4 linked regions of the Homo sapiens genome follow. The protein of the gene in region 1 interacts with the protein of each later gene in a pairwise test. Each region holds a gene or a part of one and is shown on either strand. Other genes may lie near its edges.

Region 1 (3,500 bases):
ACCACTTTGAATTTTTTTAAAAAAGGTGTTTACTCCAGAAAGAACAAGGAGTATTAGAGGAAGAATTGTACAGATCAAAATGGAAAGTTTGTCTAAATAAAATTGTCTTTGGGAAATGATTAAGAATTTCAAAAATATATATTATATATGTATGTATTAAAACATAGGTAATTATTTAATACAGCTATGCTGTTTCATCTTTAATTATAATTTTTTTTTTCATGAATGCACTTTGGCACAGCTGGAAGTACTTCAGTTAGGGATTGTTACTTGCCTAGTGAGGCAGGTACATTTTGAAAGTTGATCAACTCATCTCCTTAAAAAGAAATTATATACTATGAGAAAAGAGGTTCATTTTGAAGGTATAAATGTAACATAAAGGTGTAAAGCTGAATTTTTGTAGGCAAATATAAGTTTCTACAGTTGTTTTTCAATATCTTCAGTGTGCGTCCCACGTAACAACTCTGGAGTCTAAGTATTAACCTCTGTTTATAACATGAAATCCCTTGATAAAAGCTTTAAAGTTGATCATCTAAGTCTGTGTGTGCTGGAATAAACAGAAGTAACCCAGCAAGTATTATTCAGGAGAGGGTTTGTTATCTGAATGTAAACATAGATTTGGAAATGTATTTTTGGCTTATACATTAAGATGGAAAGGAAATATTTTTGAATAATATCTTTAAGGCAGCAGTTTATTTCTTGTTAATTTGATTAATCTTGTCCTGCGCTTGCCAGTTTGATATCTTTTTTGTCTTTTACAATAAGAAGTGATTCTAAGAAAGTAGGACTTTCTGGAGACAAAGATTCTTGGCTAAAGATTTATTACTGAGTTTTGCTAACTTTCTTTTCCAAGGTGGCTGATGGCCAAGAGTCTACACCACCAACACCTGCACCCACTTCAGGAATTGTGGGTGCATTAATGGAAGTGATGCAGAAAAGGAGCAAAGCCATTCATTCTTCAGGTAGAGAGAGAGAGAGAGAGAGAGAGAGAGAGAGACAGAGAGAGTGTGCGTGTGTGTTTAATAAATTTGAATGTTTGACGTTCTGTTATTTTTATGACTGTCTTTGCTAGCTTTCTCTCTGCTAATTGAGTAACTACTGATGTGGGCTCTAGGATGTATTTTAAAAAGTTGTTGCCTGTGTGACTAGTCTCTCTGAGACTTAACAAATGCAACACCACCACAGCCATAGCCATAAATTGAAAGAACAGCTTTGGGAATATTGACAGTTTTGTTTCCTATATCAGGAAATGCTAATAGACTTCCTAGCAAACAACCTCTAAACAAAGCTTGAGATTTTTAGATCTCATTCCTGTGACATTACTGTGACATGAAAAATTCAGGGCTGGGTGCGGTGACTCACACCTGTAATCCCAGCACTTTGGGAGGCCGAGGCGGGTGGATCACCTGAGGTCGGGAGTTCGAGACCAGCCTGGCCTACATGGAGAAACTCCATCTCTACTAAAAATACAAAAAAGTTAGCCGGCGTGGTGGCGCATGCCTGTAATTCCAGCTACTCGGGAGGCTGAGGCAGGAGAATTGCTTGAACCCAGGAGGCAGAGGTTGTGGTGAGCCAAGATCGCACCATTGCACTCCGACATGGGCAACAAGAGCAAAACTTCGTCTCAAAAATAAAATGAATAAATAATAATAATAATAAATCGGGCCATTTACCTCATCTGTAAGGATTAGGGATAAGAATTTCAGTAATTTTTACTGTTTCTAGAGTTTGCTAAAGAATACTAACTTTTTTTAAACCTTTCTTTTTCATTTTCTAAAAGGTTGATTTGAAGAAACCAGTACCTATTCTGAGGTTATTATTAAACATATACATACCACCATATAAATATTCCTTTAAAGAAAGAACAAGAATATGAGTTTTGCTGATTGGAGTAGTTGAGGTTTGCTAAATAGCTTCTCCAACATGATGTGCTAGAATCAGATCTTTCTTCTTAGATTTATTTAATCTCTGTGAGCCTCAGTTTCTTGTTTGTTACATTCAGAGAACTCACAAAACATATAGATGTGAGAATTAAATAGTATGTCACTAACCTGCAGATTGCCTAGCACATAGTAGGTGCTTAATAAATGTTACCTTCCTTTTGTTTCTCTGTAAGGATGTCCATGTCTTAAGATCCTTGAGCAATGTTTGTTTTCCTTAAATAGGCATATTTGTACCTACCCTCCATTACAGAGATAGAGATAAATATTTATTGTGGAATAATAATAAAATTTTAACAAAAAAAAAGTCCCTGCCTTCATCGACATGCATTAGGTCTAATGAGAGAGAGAGACAAGCAATAAACAAAGAAAACTAGAAAAACATACAGTATGTTAAATGGTGACATGAAGTAAGGACAAAAGTCTAACAGAAAAGGGAAATAGGGGGCAGACTGTTGAGAGAGAGGTTCATTTTGAAATGATAAAGGATGATAAGGGACAATAAAGCCTAACTGAGGTGACATTTGAGAAAAGACCAGCAGTTCAGGAAGTGAACCATGTAGAAAACTAGGGAAAGTGTATCCGATGGAAAGAACAGAAAATATAAAGTCTGTGAGGTTGAGAAACAATGAGGAGATCACGGAGCTTGCAAGGGAGGGAGGGAAAGAATAGTAAGGAATGAAATACAAGAAGTAGTAGGAGGCCAGTGGTAAGGCTTTGGAGACCCCTGAAAGTGCACTAGCTTTTATTCTGCATATGATGGGAAGCCATTGGAGGGTTTTTAGCAGAGGTGTAGTAATGATCCAAGCAAGAGGTGATGGAGGCTTGAACCAGGTTTATAGCACCAATGAGAAGTGGTTAAATATTAATTATATTTTGAATGTGGAGATCACTGGTTTTGATGATGGTTTGAAAGTGAAGGTTGAAGAAAAAGAAGAGTGCAAAATGACTCCAAGGTTTTTGACTTGAACAACTGGAAAGGGGAAAGACTTACGAAGAAAAAGTTTGAGAGGGAAGATTAGGAGTTTGATTTTACATATTAAATTTGAGATACCTATTAATTCAACTATAGATGTGGAGTAGGCATTTCGTTATGAGTCTGGAAGTCACAGGAGAGGTCTGAATTGTTAAATTGCATGTCAGTAGGATATACATAGACACCTGGTATTTAAAGTTATGGTTATGTTTATGGTATAGTCTTCTTTAGCATAAAAACAGTGAAAATTACCTAAATTCTTAGCCCTAATCCTCACAGATGAGGTAAACTGCCTGAATTTTTTATGTCATAGTAATGTCATAGGAATGAGATCTAAAAATCTCAAGCTTTGTTTAGAGGTTGTTTGCTAGGAAGAGATAAAGAAAGGTCTTCATTCATTCATAAAGAAATGTAAGGCTTCTGTGAACTACATGATTCTGAAAAAGCATTTATTCTATGCTGGTATCTGTGAGTTCTGCTAAATATTTCCCTACAATAAGTTTTTTTTTAATAGTATGTAATAGTCACGCTAATATAATGAAAATATAGGATGGTTTTTACTTATTTTCAGACCCATTTATTTT
Region 2 (2,337 bases), on another chromosome or scaffold:
ATGGGCACTTCTGTCCTGGATAATCCTTGCCCTCCCATTTACCACAAGCCTGTTTTTTTTTTTTTTGTCGGGGCAAAGGATAGAGTTAAGGTTAGTAAAATGGGGATGGGGGATCTGATGGTGCATGTGGGGAAGGGACACCCAAGGAGCCAAGACCCTGTACTACCTTCTGCTGACATGGAGATAAAGGTCCCACTCTGCTGGGAATGTCAGAGGTGAGCCCAGTGGCTCGTCAGCCCCAGCCACGGACAGGGCAGGAGGATGGGATTGGAAGAGGATGGAGCAACCTTTCCTGGAGACTCAAGTCGGGGTAAGAGGGGAGTCCTAGAGGCAGGGAAATGGACCTACAGTTGGCTGCCTTTAGAACTGGACAATTTGGGCCAGGCTCAGTGGCTCATGCCTATACTCCCAACACTTTGGGAGGCTGAGGTGGGTAGATCACTTGAGGTCAGGAGTTCAAAACCAGCCTGGCCAACATGGTGAAACCCCGTCTCTACTAAAAATACAAAAAAATTAGCTGGGCATGGTGGTAGGTGCCTGTAATCCCAGCTACTCGGGAGGCTGAGGCAGGAGAATCTCTTGAACCTGGGAGGCAGAGGTTGCAGTGAGCTGAGATCATGCCACTGCCTGGGCAAACAAACAAAACAAAAACAAACAAACAAACAAAAAGAATTGGACAATTTGTCCTTGTTCTGTGGGTGAACTTGGGCAAGCCAATAAAATTATCTGACTTACAGTTTCCTCATTAGGATAAGAGAGATAAAGAATATTCCACATAGACTTTCAATATTAAATGTATGCAAAGCACTTATCATAGTGCCTGAGATACAATAATCATTCAATAAAACTAGTTGTTTTAACAATGATGACATGATAACAGTTGTTAGAAAGGCAAGGGGCATGAGTGAGGAGTAAGATGGGGAGACCTCACATACCTATGAAGACGCAGTCTGCCTCCCTGGGCTCTAGACCGAAACCAAAGCTATCCACAGCCACTGCCAGGGCCCGGGCAAAGTGAGCATCAGCGAGGAAGGAGCCATCGGAGGAGCTGACAAGGCTGGCTCTGGCGCTGGCGGCATTGTCCTCAGAGGCTGAGCCCCAACCATTGGCTAAGGAGCCCTCGCTGGGGGTGGGGGTGAGGCAGGGCCGAGGTGGGCACAGCAAGACTCCCCCCTTGGGCCCCACCCCTCCTCCAGTCCTGCCCATGTCCGTGAACTCTGAGGCTGTTGGGACGCTGATGTACCCATAGGTGGTGGGGGGTGAAGGAGCCCTTGGCATGGGAGAGACGCTGTTCCTAGGGAGAGGCAAAAGGGGAGACAGCAATGGTTTGGGTGGAATGAGGGTTGTAGTAACAGAAAAGCCCCAGTTGAGGGAGGGCGGAATGGGTGGAGAGGCGCTTGCCCCCACAGCTTTTCTGTAGTTCTTTGGTTATCTCTCAAGCTACTCACCTGGGAGTCTCCTCACCCTCACTGAGTTCCAAGCACAGGGCTACCTCCTCAGGGGTCAGCACGCTGTCTTGATCCTCCCCCAGGGATGACAGTGAGGAGCTGGACAGGCGACTGGAAGCTGGGCTGGGGCCAGAGAGGGAAGAGGCCTGGGGGCTAGGGGGACTGCAGGGGCTAAGGATGGGGATGGGGGCTGCTGGCAGCAGGATGGAGGAGGGAGCCTGTGGTGCCACCGGAGGCCTGATTTGCGGGAGAGAGTGATGGCACCGTAGTTACTACAGCTCTTCAAGTCCTTTCCCCCCTTCCCCAGCCTGTCCAATCCCGGCACACACTCCCCACACCCCCACTCTCCCAGCCCTGCTTCCCGACCCCATGCCCTCTTACTGGGTCTGTTGACTCTGAGTTGGGGGAGTTTCATGAGGAAAGAGGGGTGCTGGAGGGAGATGACGAGTAACCAGCTCATTTGAGGAGCTGAGGAGTTTCGGTCCCAGGGCCCGCCAGGCAACCAGAGCTTGGGGCACAGCTCCTGGGGAAGAGAAGCCTGGGTGTGAGAACAGTGGCATCCCCATCTGCTCTGGAGCTCAGCCTGCCGGCCTGCCCACCAGCCCCCTTAGCTACCTGTCCACTACTCCATCCAACCCTCATCAGCCTCCTCAGGGAAAGGAGGATGAGCCCGTGGGAGGGCCCTGGGCTGGTAAGCCCCTGCATCCCTACACCCTATCTCACCCCTTCACTTCCCTTTCAGGGACCCCCTCTCACCTGGGCTTTGGGAAAGGTTCTTGGAACCTCTATTTCCTAACTCACAGGCCCGGAGCTCCAAGGAGTGGCTGCCCCGGAGCAGTGGGGAACTGTTGGCATGCTGCAGCTCTGCAAAGAAAGGGTTGGTGGTTGT
Region 3 (3,500 bases), on another chromosome or scaffold:
TTTAAGAGATGGTGTCTCACTCTGTCACCTAGGCTGGAGTGCAGTGGCGTGATCAGGACGCACTGAAACCACAACTTCCCAAGTAGCTGGGACCCAGGTGCACAACACCAAGCCCAGCTAGATTTGATTTTTTTTTTTTTTTTTTTTTTTTTTAAGAGATAAGGTCTGCCTATGTTGCCCAGGCTGGTCTCAAACTCCTGGGCTCAAGCAGTCCTCCTGCCTTGGCCCCACAAAGTTATGGGATTACACACCTGAGCACTGTGCCTGGCAAGACCTGTCTTAATAGATTAGAGAACCACTGATAGATGGTCAGCTTTCTGTAGCAGTGAGAACCCTACATTTCAAATGTGGATAGCACCTTTGCGGGGAAACATCACTTGGCACATCTGCATTCTTTTTTGACACAGGGTCTCACTCTGTTGCCCAGGCTAGAGTGCATGGCACGATCTTAGCTCACTGCAACCTCCACCTCCCAAGTTCAAGCGATTCTTCTGCCTCAGCCTCCTGAGCAGCTGGGATCACAGACATGCGCTACCATGCCCAGCTAATTTTTTGTATTTTTTGTTTGTTTGTTTTTGTTTTTAAGTAGAGACGGGCTTTCACCACGTTGGCCAGGCAGGTCTCGAACTCCTGACCTCAGGTGATCCACCCACATCTGCGTTCCAATATCTTTCTCAACATAATGATAGCCGTAATTAATATTTTCCAGTACATTTTTATGCCTTTACACACGAGAGTGGTAGACAGACACAAACCCAGATCTGTCTGACTCCAAAGCCCGTTTGTCATCATTCCTTTTACGGTATCCTATAGTGGTATCCTTTACAGAAGACAGCTTTTACCCAACAAAGACTTAACTTCCCAGGATGCCAGAGGACAAAGCGGGATTGCTTTTAAGAGGAAGTTATCAAGACCTTATTTTATAAATGAGATTAGATAGGGAAAGGCAATTTAATCTTTATTAAAAACTGAAAAGGCCAGCATAGGAAGAGGTCCTCGGTGGTCTTTTTCAGGGAAATACTTCAGTTGCTTTTATTAGAAACAGATAGTACCTAAGGTTTTGAGGTAGGTACAGCTTAAGGCATGCTAATGGTCATGGGTCCTTCCATAGTCATTTTTGTATTTTGGTTTACATTTGAGCAATAGGCAGCCCTTCACTGCTGCTGGACTCATTCCTGCCACTATTACAGGTGACAGAGGAGACAGGAGGTATGTCTTTTCTATTTTTATACATGCTTTATATTTAACACAAGCTCTTGGGTATCTTAGATAAACAGAAGTTGCCTAGCACTCCTTTTAGTGCATTGAACCCTTTAACATTTAAGCAAAATAATAAACAGTCTTTTGAGGTTCCTTAACAATGAAACGTGTTCGAGTGGCAGCAGCGGAATCCATGCCTCTTCTCCTGGAGTGTGCAAGAGTCCGTGGTCCTGAGTATCTCACACAGATGTGGCATTTTATGTGTGATGCTCTAATTAAGGCCATTGGTACAGAACCAGATTCAGACGTCCTCTCAGAAATAATGCATTCTTTTGCAAAGGTGAATATTTTTCTCTTAAAAAATATGTATAAGGTTGTATGTTCATTTATTAGTCTTGCTAAAAGTAAAAAAAAAAAATTTGAGACAGGGTATTGCTCTGTCACCCAGGCTGGAGTGCAGTGGCGCAATCGCAGCTCACTGCAACCTCCACCTCCTGGGTTCAAGCAATTCTCATGCCTCATCCTTCCAAGTAGTTGGGATTATAGGCATGCACCACCACACCTGGCTACTTTTTGTATTTTTAGTAGATGTTCCTCAGGTCTCAAACTCCTGGCCTCAGGTGATCCACCTCGGCCTCCCAGAGTGCTGGGATTGCAGATGTAAGGCAGCTAAATAAATTTTTATATGCTATAGTGTATGATTTGTTAAAAAATAAAAATGTTAAATTTTTTGTTTTAATATTTTGGTATTATTATGTTTGTTTTAAAGAGGGTAAATTTGCCTTGGAAGGGCAGTATAGGTAGAGGGAATGATATGGGCAGCAGCATGGAAGCATGCATTCTTTGGAAAAAGAGAAGAAATTCTGAATACTCTAGTATTTTAGTCTTGCACTTAATAATCCAACTATAGAAGCTTGGGTATCATCTCCAGTTTCTGTTCTTTACACTTTCCTCAATTCTTCTCTTTTTTTTTTTTTTCATTGCCCCATCTCTTTTTCATGCCATTGAAATAGCCTCACTTGGGCTACTCCAGATGTCTCCTTTCTTTTCCTCTCAGTTCATTCTCCTTTCCTCAAGCACTGCCTTCCTCTTCATTGAGTCACTTCCTTTCTCATACAGTGTCACTCCCATTTTGCACAACTCTAGTTTGCTCCAATCTTGATTGAAGATTTACAGTTTCTCAGCATCTTTATATGTCCTTATTTACACTCCTGTAATTCAGAATTGCTTCTGATTTTCCAAAGACAGCATGCTTCCATACCTTTGCCTATATTTTATTTCTTCTACCTCTAATGCCCTTCCTTCAGTGTTCTTGTATGTTGTGTGTACGGAGTATGGATATAGCAATTGTGTTCCTTAGGAGCTGGTTGTGTGTGTGTGTGTGTGTGTGTGTGTGTTTTCCATCTTTGAATCCTCAGTACCAAGCATGATGCCTGGCACCTAGGTATGCTCAGTAGTGTTCAAAAGAAAATATTTTTTTCTAACTCCAATCTCTAAAATGCTGTCATTCTAACAAATACAAGCTAAGCATATGTAAATAATCTTCCAGGATACTGAACTGTGTTCATTTTTCCATATGATTCTTAGTGGAGTTTAACTTTGGACTCCAAACACCCCAAATCTTATGGATTGCTTTCTTTCCTCAACCTCATTAGTGCATTGAAGTAATGGGAGATGGATGCCTTAATAATGAACACTTTGAAGAACTGGGAGGTATATTGAAAGCAAAGCTTGAAGAACATTTTAAAAATCAAGAATTACGACAAGGTAAGTTTTCCATGCTTTTATTTCTGAATATAATCCTTGACCATCTTGGCAATCATTTAAAACATTTATTTGGGTGTGTTTTAGTTAAAAGACAAGATGAAGACTATGATGAACAGGTCGAAGAGTCACTACAAGATGAGGTAAGTTATTCCCTTTGGAACTTACTTACGTGACCACTTGCATCTGAAAGACTTGTAAATGCCTCAATTTCTGATTTATGTGACTTGTCATTCTGATGTAATTATCAGTCTTTAGCAGAGGAGTCAGATATATTTCCTCTCTTAATTTATGAATAAGTAATTTGAAATTAAACTGATATGTCTTTCGGTGCTATGTGCATTTTGTTGTAATACCTCACTCAACAAAACACCTTGAGGTTTACCTAGTTCATTTACATACTGCTCACAACAACCATTTGTATTTTGTGGTGCTTTCACTATATTAAAGATGAGTAACCTAAAATTCCAGTGTTAAATGATTGCCTAGAGTCACACTGTTGACGGTCTGGGGCCTTTTTCACCATGTTACTTAGT
Region 4 (3,500 bases), on another chromosome or scaffold:
TAAACACAAAACTATTTTAATTCTCTCTAAATTCTTAAAGACCCAAGAAAAACAAACTTTATTGAGATAATTAGGAATTTTTTTTAAAATATAAATTACCCAAAGAGGCTTTTAATATAGAAAGCAGCAAAATTGTAGAATGAAAAGAATTTTAGAAATTCTGATCACGGCTCACTGCAGCCTCAACCTCCGGGCTCAAGTGACTCTCCCACTTCAGCCTCCTGAGTAGCTGGAACTACAGGTGTGTGTCACCATACTCAGCTCATTTTTTTTTTTCCTTCTAGAGATAAGGTCTCACTATGTTGCCCAGGCAACATAGGAGTTCAACATCTTGAACTCCTTGGCTCAAGTAATCCTCCCACCCTGGTCTTCCAAAGTGTTCAAATTAGAGGGATGAGCCAGTACACCTGGCCTAGTAATTCTTTTGCAAGGTCTCATAGCTCAAAATTGATAGAGTAAGTAGAAATTGATAAACTGGATTTTAAAAATTAATATTTTTGTTGGGGGAATTGTGATGAGGCAGGGTTTAAAAATTTTTGTTCTATACAGACATTTCAGCTAGATTATAACAATGACAAATAAATTGAAATAGAGCAAAATAATCAATATTCAAACTTAACCATCTTTACATTCATATTTTACATTCTAATTCATTTTTGGGGTTATCAGAAGTTTGGGAATGAACTTTACTATTATATTTTGCTTTGCAAATGAATCTGGGCATTCAAACTTACATCTGTTCTCAAAGTCAGGAATATTAAAGTGTTAAACTCTGGACACAGATACAAATGAAATATACAAAAGTCAGAGGAATGTGATCTGTAAAAGTAGAAAGATAAATTCTGAAGAGTCCAAGAATAGGTTTTTGAGTCAGATAGACTTAGTTTGAATCCATTGTATGCCATTTTATGGCACTACTAGCTTTATGATCTTGGGCATGTTAATTATCTGAGTCGTAGCTACATCTGAAAACTAGTGAAAATGTCACCTATCTCCATAGGGTTGGTAGGTTATAATGAGGTCATATTTTAAACATTCTGGTATAGGATCTACATAATATCTTAGGCATCCAGTAATGGTAACTGTTAATGTTAAAGACCCAATTGAAAATTACTTGAAACAAAAATTTTCTTATTACTGTTCATAAGAAAATCCAGATAATTCCTAGGTTCTTAATAGCCTAAACAATGAATCCAAAATGAAGATTGAAGATATATTGAAAGATTAAGGCAGATCTCAAAGAGAATGAATTTGTAGGGAGTAGCTAGATGAGAAAGGAGGCAACTGATAGAGACATTTAATTTTTGTTACTGAGCAGCATTTTAGGAATAGGTAAAGGGGTTTAAATTGTGTGCTGGCTGCAGATGGGCCATAACCCAATTTGCCTTACAGAATTTATACCTTCTTATTGAGTATTCACTGTGCTCAGGATAGAGCTTTTCCCTTATTTTTTATGTGTCTACTAAGACTTGGGAGTCCAATGATCAGGACAGGTAACTAATGCCACTGATTGGAAGATGTGGCTTTGAGATCCTTTGGGTAGGGAATGACACAAAACTAAAACTCAAATTAATTTATCCTTTTCATGAATTCTGAAATCAAGCCATGGAATACATGTGGAAGCTCCTGAGACACAGGTCTTGACAACTGAGAATTTCATACAAGGTGAATACAGCCCAGGCTATTAAACAATACACAGAGAAATGTTCCAATACCACCTTCACTATCAAAGATCAATATAAATCAGGATCTAGTATAGATAATTATGTTTTTGTGTTTTTGTTTGTTTTGTTTTTTGTTTTTTGAGACAGAGTCTCACTCTGTTGGCCAGGCTGGAGTGCAGTGGCATGATCTCAGCTCAGTGCAACCTCCACCTCCTGGGTTCAAGTGATCCTCCTGCCTCAGCCTCCCAGGTAGCTGGGACTACAGGCATGTGCCACCATGCCCAACTAATTTTTTGTATTTTTAGTAGAGACGGGGTTTCACCATGTTGGCCAGGATGGTCTCGATCTCTTGACCTCGTGATCCACCCGCCTCGGCCTCCCAAAGTGCTTGGATTACAGGTGTGAGCCACCGTGCGTGGCTGGTAATTTTTTTTTTAAGACAGTGATATTAGCAGTGGTCGATTCTAACAAAGAAACCGTAATGACTGCTTCTTTTTAAAATGCTGGCAAATTTATTTTTATTTTTAATTTTTTGAGACAGAGTTTCACTCTGTCACCCAGACTGGAGTGCAGTGGCATGATTTTAGCTCACTGCAACCTCTGCCTCTCGGGTTCAAGAGATTCTCATTCCTCAGCCTCCGGAGTAACTGGGATTACAGGGCATGTACCACCATGCCCAGTTAACTTTTTGTATTTTTAGTAGAGATGGGGGTTTTGCTATGTTGGCCAGGCTGGTCTCGAACTCCTGTCCTCAAGTGATCCACCTGTTCTTGGCCTCCCAAAGTGCTGGGATTACAAGCATGAGCCTCCACGCCTGGCCTAGATCATTCTTTTAACATTTTTCTTTTTGGAAGACAGGTTCTCACTCTATTGCCCAGGCTGGAGTGCGGTGGTGCAATCATGGCTCACTGCAGCCTTGACCTCCCAAGCTCAAGCAATCCTCCCACCTCAGCATCCCAAGTAGCTGAGACCACAGCATATGCCATCACACGCAGATAATTTTTTTGATTTTTAGTAGAGATGAGATCTCACTATGTTGCCTAGGCCATCTCAAACTCCTGGCCTCAAATGATCCTCCTGCCTTGACCTCCCAAAGTGCTGGGATTAGAGGCATGAGCCACTATGCCCAGCCCAATATTTTTCCTTTATCTTTTAAAAATGTATTTGATACAAAAATTAGCTAGGCGTGGTGGCGCCGGAGGTTGCAGTGAGCCAAGATCGTGGCACTGCACTCCAGCCTAGGCTACAGAGGGAGACTCTGTCTCCAAAAAAAAAAAAAACTCTAGTCCCTTTAGAATAAAATATTACAATAAAGTCTTTTCAACATTCATAAAGTTATTAAATAACTTTGAAGAACTAAATTAAGGAAATCAGCATTCCAATATTCTTGATATATTAGTCTTTAAGTCATCTTAACTATTTTGTCCTTAGATGCTCTCTCAAGATATGATTTTGTTTTATTTTAAGGTTAATACAAAGGCATAGAAGGCTCAGATATCTGAGCAGAGTGAGCAGCGATAGAAAAGCTGACTTCGCAGAAGAAAACAATCAGTTTTTTAACTCTGTAACTAAAATATAACCATTTCAAGGAGAGAAAAAGAGATGGTCATGTATGATGAATGAAAATCACTAACAGTAAAATACTAGCATTCCAAACCATTTCAAAAAAAGATAGTGTTGGGGTTGTTAGGCCAATGGCATAACATTCTAGTTAACCCTCATTCAGGGAATTTGTACTACTTACATTTTTCAGTTTACTGAGAGACAAGAAATATACTGGGGCTGGGCACAGTAGCTCACACTTACAATCCCAGTGTTCTGGTAGGCCAAGGCAGA

Evidence for each region.
Region 2: the proteins of WASL (region 1) and ROBO4 interact in a two-hybrid assay, tested with the Homo sapiens proteins (one study listed by IntAct).
Region 3: the proteins of WASL (region 1) and IPO5 interact in a two-hybrid assay, tested with the Homo sapiens proteins (one large-scale study listed by BioGRID and IntAct).
Region 4: the proteins of WASL (region 1) and FCHSD2 interact in a two-hybrid assay, tested with the Homo sapiens proteins (one large-scale study listed by BioGRID and IntAct).

What each region holds. Positions count from the first base shown.
Region 1 is NC_000007.14:123,686,504-123,690,003, reverse strand, and holds part of WASL (actin nucleation-promoting factor WASL), read left to right. Parts: intron 1-853; coding exon 854-962; intron 963-3,500. UniProt on the Homo sapiens protein: Regulates actin polymerization by stimulating the actin-nucleating activity of the Arp2/3 complex. Involved in various processes, such as mitosis and cytokinesis, via its role in the regulation of actin polymerization.
Region 2 is NC_000011.10:124,885,529-124,887,865, forward strand, and holds part of ROBO4 (roundabout homolog 4 isoform 1 precursor), read right to left. Parts: intron 2,313-2,337; coding exon 2,205-2,312; intron 1,972-2,204; coding exon 1,830-1,971; intron 1,686-1,829; coding exon 1,449-1,685; intron 1,295-1,448; coding exon 936-1,294; intron 1-935.
Region 3 is NC_000013.11:98,012,675-98,016,174, forward strand, and holds part of IPO5 (importin-5), read left to right. Parts: intron 1-1,367; coding exon 1,368-1,540; intron 1,541-2,855; coding exon 2,856-2,967; intron 2,968-3,051; coding exon 3,052-3,107; intron 3,108-3,500. UniProt on the Homo sapiens protein: Functions in nuclear protein import as nuclear transport receptor. Serves as receptor for nuclear localization signals (NLS) in cargo substrates.
Region 4 is NC_000011.10:72,890,819-72,894,318, forward strand, and holds part of FCHSD2 (F-BAR and double SH3 domains protein 2), read right to left. Parts: intron 1-3,500. UniProt on the Homo sapiens protein: Adapter protein that plays a role in endocytosis via clathrin-coated pits. Contributes to the internalization of cell surface receptors, such as integrin ITGB1 and transferrin receptor.